Regions from separate parts of the Homo sapiens genome. Here region 1 is linked to region 2. A link means that fine-mapping ties the variant in region 2 to the expression of a gene that starts in the linked region. Tissue or cell type: sun-exposed skin. Region 2 holds a variant in brackets; the other region holds the start of a gene. All regions are shown on one strand. Distances are between the middles of the regions.

The links.
Region 1: LINC00592 starts here. The variant in region 2 is fine-mapped to the expression of LINC00592 in sun-exposed skin (GTEx, PIP above 0.99). The same link has a PIP of 0.9 or more in unexposed skin.

What each region holds. Positions count from the first base shown.
Region 1 is chr12:52,208,820-52,213,024 of GRCh38, reverse strand. It overlaps LINC00592 (long intergenic non-protein coding RNA 592), which reads right to left and starts at 2,095. Exons shown (of 5, transcript NR_027358.2): 1 at 2,005-2,095; 2 at 869-981; 3 at 1-426. LINC02874 (long intergenic non-protein coding RNA 2874) reads left to right here. Exons shown (of 3, transcript NR_164133.1): 2 at 423-483.
Region 2 is chr12:52,201,895-52,206,099 of GRCh38, reverse strand. It overlaps LINC02874 (long intergenic non-protein coding RNA 2874), which reads left to right. Exons shown (of 3, transcript NR_164133.1): 3 at 1-1,277. Among named protein-coding and RNA genes, the nearest start is that of LINC00592, 6.9 kb to the left of the region's middle. The variant G/C (reference allele first, on the strand shown) is at 2,423.

The sequences.
Region 1 (4,205 bases), 6.9 kb before region 2:
ACATGGAAGACAGTGACTCACACAGATGAGCCTGCTAGAGCACCTTTTCCAGGAGCAGAGACCCACAAGGGTGGACGGGGGCTTGCTTTCCCCTCTCCTGGGGCTGGCAGGAACACCCCACTCTTACCCCAACTCACAGTGATCGCCGGAGGGTGGTGCACTCTGCTCCAGCACCTGCCACCTGCCTAACACGCACTTGGGGACAGCTTCCAATAGGATGCAAGTGGCAGACAAAGGTACCCCAGGAGGGCAGGTGGGGGAGGGTGAGAAGCACTGGGGAATGGGCACCCCTCATCTCCCACAGGCTCAGCGGCTCCCTCAGGACAAGGAGAAAGCTGGGAACCCTAAGACAGAACTGGAGGTTCTCGTTGCCTAAATCTCTCCTGGCTTGCTGCACATGGAACCCATTTCTTCCCATTCAGGGCTCTGCAGAGGCAGAAGATGAACAGTAAGATGCAAAGATCTGGCAACCTTCAGAGCTGGGTGAGTCCTGGGGTCCTCACCCCATTACGCCTAAGCTACAACCCCATATTCCCTGTCCTCCCAGCCCTGGGGGCCCTGGTCCCACTACGCAGGGGTGGCTCAAAAGCCCAATGAGCTGGAAGGGTCTGAGAGAGCACCCCATGTCACAGGGGAGGTGAGGCAGCCTTGGACCTGGGATCTTGTTTGCGGCTCTTTATCATGGACACACTCCTAGAACTCCCCAGTCCCTCCACCTCCTCCTGAAGTACTCCAAGAGCTGGTCAACACCGAGAGCCCACCTCAGGCTGTGGCACGGCTCTTGGTGGGGCCTGGTGGGTCATGGGCTTGCCTCTCCCATAACTCAGGGCCCAGTTGGAGACACCGTGACTGTTCACTAATCAGACACCTGAGTGTGTAGGAGAAAGGCCTTGCCCACTCTATTCTTCAGATGAGAACACTGAGGCTCGGCGAGGCGACAAGTCTTTCTGAGGGCCAGTGGAGCAGACCAGCCTGGGAGGCCTAAGGGAAGTGCTGGCAGAGCTGAAGCCGCGGTTCCCCTGCCTGGTCTTGCAGTCCAGCCCTCCACCTCACCCTTCCCCCTCCCTCAGCCCTGCCCTGGGCTCCAAACTCCGACCTGATGGAGTCCCCACACCCTCTCACCTGGGCAGGCCCACCTCAGACTGCCTGCTCTAGACCCACACACCCCATCCCCTCCTCCCTCTGCAGGAGCATGCCCCTGCCATCACTCCCTTGCTCCATGAAACCCAAAGGCAGACCCCTCGCAATCCTCCCCATTCCCATAGCACTGCAGCCCCTGCATCTGACCACATCCCTTCCTGCTTAAAACTCTTCAACAGCTCCCAGCTTCCCTTGGAACAGAAAGCTCACTCCTCATGTCAGCATTCAAGAGCCCCGCATACTTTTCTGGCTTCATCTCCAGCCACTGTCACCCCCTACCATCACCTCCACACGACCCTCTTAACACCCTGGTCTGCTTTCCAAACACACAACTGCTTGCATGTCCCTGGCTCAGCCTACAGGGCCAGCTATGTCTCACCCTTACAAAACTTCACACGGCCATTCTAGAGAGGCCAAGTGCACCCCTCAGGGCTCCCGTAGCCCCCAGGCTTCCTCCCTTCCTGGTGCGTATCCTCTGTGTGCTTGTCTGAATCCTCCTCTAAACTGTAACCTCTCTGCAGGCAGGGGCCCAGCCAACCTTGCCAAATGATTGTCCTCTGCACCCAGCACACCCGTGAACCCCTAGTAGGTGTTAAAGAAACACTGTCTAACATTAGGCTCTAATTATTTCATTGATAGTGTGGTCTGGCTCCCCCCTCCATCCGCATGGGCCAAGGAGACACTCAGCCGGGGGTGGGGAAGCTGTCAGTCAAGTTCCCCTCAGCTCCCACCTCCATGCTCCCTCTCTGGGGGACGGGCCTGCCCCCACCATGGGGTTCCGGAGCAGTGGTAGGCCCACCACAGTGCCTGAGGCCCCAGGGACTGTCCCTGGGAGAAATGGCTTAACATCTTGTCAACACCAACCTCCCCAAGCTCCTTAATCACTTCAGACACTACACAGCTGATGGGTGAGCAAGAGGACCTGAGACCTCCCCCATCCCCTCTCCACCTGCCTACAGGTCCCTGGGGCCTCTGCAGAACCACCCAGAAGCCCCAAATTGTGACATCACCAGTTCAACAGCCTTCCCCACTCCCATCACTTCCTGAAACAGCCAGAGCGAGAAGATGATGCATGTGAGCCCTGCCCTTGGGAAGCTTCCAGGTTGGGAAATGAGGAATGAGCCTGACACCCAGGGCCCAGAGAGACCCAGGACAGAGGCAGGTCAGGAGGCAGACACGCGCTGCTGGGTAATGACGACAGCACCAGTAATCACGGCTACTCCTTGTTAAGTACTTACTAAGTGCAAGACTCCAAGCTAAGCAATTAATAGACCTTTTCTTGTTTAATCCTTACCACAATTCCATAGGGTGAGTATAATCCTTATTTTATAGATTGAAAAAGGAGGCTCAGAGAGATCTAGCAATGTGTGCAGCATCACACAGCTAGTCAGTGGTAGAGCTGGAATTTCAATCCAGATCTGCCAGCTGCAAAGCCGGTGCCCTTTCTACCCCACTTCAAGCTCTAGGTAGGGGTTTGTTACTTCCCTTCCAAAAAGCCTCATGGAAGCCCCATTACCAATAACATAAGCCCCCCACAGCTGAGGCTCCCCCAGTTTGACCCCTGCCTGCCTTCTCACCACTGCTCCCAACACACCACCATCACACCTTAGATTTTAACACTGCCCTTAGATTTTAACACTGCCGTTTTTGAAGTTTACCCCTCTGAGTCTTGGCTTCTGCTATTTACTCAGGCTCAAAAGCCAGCCCCACTTTACAGATGACAAAACAGAGGACTAAGAACGTTAAGTAAGTAGCCCAAGGTCACGCAGCTAGAAAGCAATTGAGCCTGGTTAGAGCCCAGGTCATTAGAGCATCAAGTAATCAAGCATTAATTTGTGTTACAGACAATTAGGGGATGAGAATTAGCAGGACTTGTCACTAATGGTGCAGAAGAAGTTAGGGGAGAGGAATCAGGCAGGTTCCAGAGTGAAGGAGGGCCAGGATAGGCCTTGAGAAATGGGCAGGTTCTGAAAGGGGAGGGCATGAGAAAAGTACAGAGATGACAGCAAAGAGAGAGAGAGAGGAAGGGACAGGGGGTTGTCAAAATTAGGGAGAGAATGTGGAATGGTGAAGAGAGCTGTGACTAGGAGTCAGGAGACCCGGCTGTATCCCCTCAACTTCCTGTGTGATATTGGGCAAGGAAGGCCCTTCCCTCTCTGGGGGGTGCCTTGTATATCAATGAAGGATAGATGCACCTAGGTGGTCTCTGGGGTCCCACCTGGCCCTGACATCCAGGAATTTGTGTGTGTGTGTTGCTATTGGATCTTGAAACACAGAATCTGACCCCAGACCCTGACACGGGGCACAGGCTTGGACACCAAGGGCAGACAGGGCCAGCTGCCAACATGACACCTGACAGAGAGCACCCGAGGGCTGTCCTCAGCCACACACAGTCATTCATGCACCCCTTCTCCCCCTGCATCCGTGCTACTAAGCATGTGTGGACTCGCTACAGTGGATCCAATCCTGTGGAAGCTGGAACGCAGCAGGGACGAACGAGTCATATCAAGGAAAGGCGTTTATCCTCAAGGAAAGGCAAAGGGAATGGAGGTCCTTAGAGAAGGGGCAGAGAAAAATTCCTGAAAGTAAGGGTGGAGTTTTCCAGATTGGAATACATGGTCTGCCAAATTGGAGGACATTTGAGGAAAAAGAATGGTCCCCAATCAAGACAGCACTGCATCCGAACATAAAGTACCTTTCAGACCATCAGCAAAGGAAACAGTCCTCTCCGGGGGGACCTGTGCTCGCAATAACAGACACTGCTGGAGATCTCAGAGCCCGTGGAGGCAGAAGATGCCTCACTAAAGACTGTGGACACACATATCTGGGCACACACACATGATGCACACACAGGTGCTCACACACAAGCCTGAACAGAGACCCCACCGTGGGCCGTCCATCCTCCCACTTCCCGACTGAGCTGGTAAGCAGCTCTCCCTCTCCAGGAAACACGCCCCTCACGTGTTGATGACATGCAGCCCTGGAAGTCAGAACGTCTTGCCGTCTCACCTCGATCCCTCTTGCTGCCGTTCTGATGTGCTTGCTTCTTTTCTGACTCAAGAGAT
Region 2 (4,205 bases):
AGTTTAGTCCCTGGAGGATTAGTCCCTGCCCTTAAGGAGTGCCAAAGAAGACTTTGGAATCTAAGTCACATCTCCCCTGCTGCAATTTTTTCCTCTTGATAATCAAGGAATCTCACTGATAAAACTCTCAATGAGGAGCAGCTCTCCCCATGAGCAAGTTCTTGCCTTCATTGCCAGGGAGGCCCCAGCTAAGGTTATACTGGGAAAGGAATCTCTGGGGAGTACCTGGAAGAGGTCAGCTTCTCCTCAAAGGAAGCCTCTCCAGCTGGTGTACTGCAAAGCCTTCCAAGACCAAGTTCCCTCTTCCTGGCCTCTGGAACCAGCCTGTGTGCCAGCGCTGTGTCCCCAGTAACACACATGAGTCTCTCCCTCAGAAGCCACAGAAGGATGCAGAGAGAGACCAACCCAGGATTGATTCTCAGCACTTACTAATTGTGTGGACATAACTGCTCTGGACCTCAGCTTTGCTATCTATAAAATGAGCACCCTTTTTATAGATATGAACACTTTAAGAGAGTCATAAAGATTGAAGTTGATTTGTGCTGCGCCTGGCACAGAGGTCTCCCTCAGTAAATGGCAGCCACTGCTATTGGGGTGCCCCAACACCCCTTGCCCCTGCCCACCATTAGCTTTCACTTAGGCCCACACTGAGGGTGTGGCTGTTGTGTTGGGGGAAGGAAAAAAACCATGCCTGGGTTGCAGGGCCCCCACCACCAACTGGTCTGCTTTTGTGGGAAGCATTTTCTGATGCCCTCGCCCTACCCGTGGGCTGGTTGACTAAGTGTCCAGCATCATGAGGAAAAGAGCAGGGTTCAGGGACAGCTTGGCTCAGCCCTGAAACTCATCTGGGCCTAGGTCCAGATGAGAGGCAAGCCTGGGAGGCCTTCCGTTGTACCCTTGCCTATCCTGCAGCACCCTCTAGCCTGCAGGCCGCTCCTGGGTGGCATAGCACCTTGGATGTCAGGTGTGGGCCTTCCCAGGCACATGGCATGAGGGGGCACTTCTGTGGGTTGTTGGGGGCAGGAAGGGATGTGTCTCCAGCTGGACTTGGGCTCTCGCATTTTGGGGCCCAGCCATGCCAGGACAGCACACATGGGCGCTTAGTGCGAATCTCATGATGGAGCAGAGGAGGAGCAAAGCAAAACCAGGGAGTCCCCAGGCCCCTGCTTCTGCCCCGCCCAGAGACAGTGGAGCAGGTGTCTCCAGCTTCTTAACCTCAACGCACAGTAAGAAATACATTTTACAGCAACCAATAGACACATACATTTACAAAACGATACTCTGTAATGCACTGGGCTGGTTTTCTCTCCTCACGCCCCTCTAGTGAGTCACAGATGAGTCCCGCTATAAGTAATGTAAGCAAGCCACAGTCCCTGGCTGGCAAGTGAGGGAGTGCCCCACCAGGACAGGGACACTGAGGCAGCAATGAAAACAGCCAATGCAACCACTCCTTCCTTTTTCCCCCGCTCAGACCCTCATGGGTGAGGAGAGAAGCTGCCAAGCCGAGGACTCCATGAGAAAGATGCCGGAGCTGCCCCACTCCGCAGCAGGCGCTTCCCCTGGATTCTCACTATCCTCACGACAGCCATGAGCACCAGCAATTATCTGTTCCATTTTGGAGAGGAGGCAATGCAGGTTCAGAGGCTTTAAAAAGATTTACTATGTGCTTGCTGTGTGCCGGCAACGTTTATATGGTTTATATAATGCTGAATGGTTTATATAATGCTCAGCGCTTACCTATTCCCCAGAGCAGCCCTAGGGAGCAGGTACCGCTGCATCTGCATTGGCAGAGGAGACCGCGGCTCCCCCAACCCCCGGCTCAAGGTCTCACAGCTAGTTGCAGGCCTGCATCTCTCAACCCAGAACACCTTTAAGGAGTCCCTCCTGCCCCAGGCAGAGTCCTAGGCTTCCCTGCAGATCCAGGTAAACTTCAGGTAGGAGGAGGCCTGCCTGTAAGTGGGGAACATCAATGGGAAGGAGCAGATTGAAAGCCAGAAGAGAATATGAAGAAATGGCTGTGGCTGTGGGCTCACAGAAAGGGGGCAGCCCCCTTGCCCAGCTCTCCTCCATAATCCAGAGGCTATTTTAATTTAATGATGATCATAAAAGAAATATTGACGGTGTGGCTGAATCAGGCTCTGCTGTGGCCTCCACGCAGGCAGCCTGCTCTGGACCCTGTGGTTCCCTGGCTGCTCCAGACCCCCTCGCTCCCCAAGGTCAGCTGCAGATCAGAGCTTCCTGGGCACAGAGAGCCCTGCTCAGAAGGGACATCTCCATTCGCAGAGGTGAGACGGCCTGAGGGTTTCACGGTGGAAAGGAAAGCCCTGTCTTTGGAACCTGATATGGATCTGGCTGCCAGGGTCCAGGGTCACCTGTGGGGAGGGGCAGCAGCCGCCCAGCTCTGCCAGAGACAGAGGGCAGG[G/C]CCAGACCTGGGGCTTCCCGCCCAGGATGCCATCAGCCAGTTGAAATTCCAGCCCACGCCGGCACCCTGAGGGCTGTCGGGGAGGGGTGGGATTTATGACTTCCCCACCCCCCCGCAACACCCCAAAGGGAAATGTGTTGAGCTGGTCAACATCTCTCTGGTCACAGGGCCAGTGCTCCTGAGGCTCCTAAATAATGGGGCAGGAGCCAGGTCATTAGGCAGGGGAGACTGTCATTAGTGCGGGTGATGCCACCACCGCTCAGACAATGGCAAACAGTCATTAGCGGCTGTGTCACAGGGATGAGGCAATGCTGGATGGCTGGGGCGTGGCGCTTCCCCAGCCACACACTCACACACACACGCACATGTTCACACACAGAGGAGGAAGTAGTCATGCTCAAACACTCACTCCCACAAGGACATCTAGAGACACACACATCCACACGTGGGGGCATGAGTGGGTGTGTCTGCACACTCACATGCTCACATGTCCACACACATTCACATGCAGGGTGTGAGGAGGCATGTGCTCCCACGTGTTCACACAGTCACATACAGGAGAACAAGCAGACAGCCGCATTTGCACACTCACATGTTCACACAGAGGAATGAGTGAGCACAGGGTGCAGGGACACATGTTCACACACAGTCACAACAAATTCACACACACACACAGGCATACTCGCATGCTCACGTTTCCAGATTCACACGCAGGGGCTGAGAGACACATTGCCCAGAAAGGGCCACAGTGTCTGGGACACCCCCCACCCACACACACCACAGGGGCAGGGCCCTCGGATCCTCCCCACACCAGGCACCCAGACACCCCCTACCCTGAGATAGCCACACAGAACCTCAGGGGCCCCCCGAGGAGAGACCCAAAGACACCCCCTCATCCCACCCCTCCCCCTGCATCAAATGATGCAGCAGCCAGGAAGGAAAAACCCAGTGAAGCGTGGAGGCAGCCAGGCTGCGTGGACCTTGGCAGAGGCGGTGTCAGCTGTGCCGCCGCAGTGCTCTCCACACTCCCAGCTCTGACAGCCAGCACAGACCTGCCCCCAACATGAACCCCCAAAAAATGGGCTGCTGTAGGCGTGTTTCTCTGCTCGCCTCCCTGTGGGAGAGGGACAGGAAGCGGGAGGCTGGAGTTGGAGGAGCGGGGGAGTAGAGCAACTGAAACCCAGCCCCTGGCCCTGGCTTGAATCTTCTCTCCCGTCCTCACCAGGCTTTCCCCCCGCCAAGCTATGGAGCCGCCCTTCAGAAAACACAGGCAGGGAGTGGGACAAGAGGCAGAGAAAGTGGCAGGCACAGCCACGCCAGGCCAAGAGAGCAGGCTGGAAACCAGCCCTCCACTCTGGGTTCAACATCTAGCTCCACCACTTATCAGCTGGTAGTATTAGCTTCCTGCGGCTGCTGTAACAGATTTCCAGAATTTAGGGGCTCCACGCAACACAACTCTATTTCTTCATTTAAATAAATCTTACTGGCTGGGTGTGGTGGCTCATGCCTCTAATCCCAGCACTTTGGGAGGCTGAGGTGGGAGGATCACTCGAGGTCAGCAGTTCAAGACCAGCCTGGGCAATATGGTGAAACTCCATCTCTACTAAAAATACAAAACTTAGCCAGGTGTGGTGGCACGTGCCTGTAGTCCCAGCTGCTCAGGAGGCTGAGACATGAGAATCACTTGAACCCAGGAGGCGGAGGCTGCAGTGAGCCGAGATCTTACCACTGTACTCCAGCCTGGGTGACAGAGCAAGACCCTGTCTCTAAATAAATAAATAAA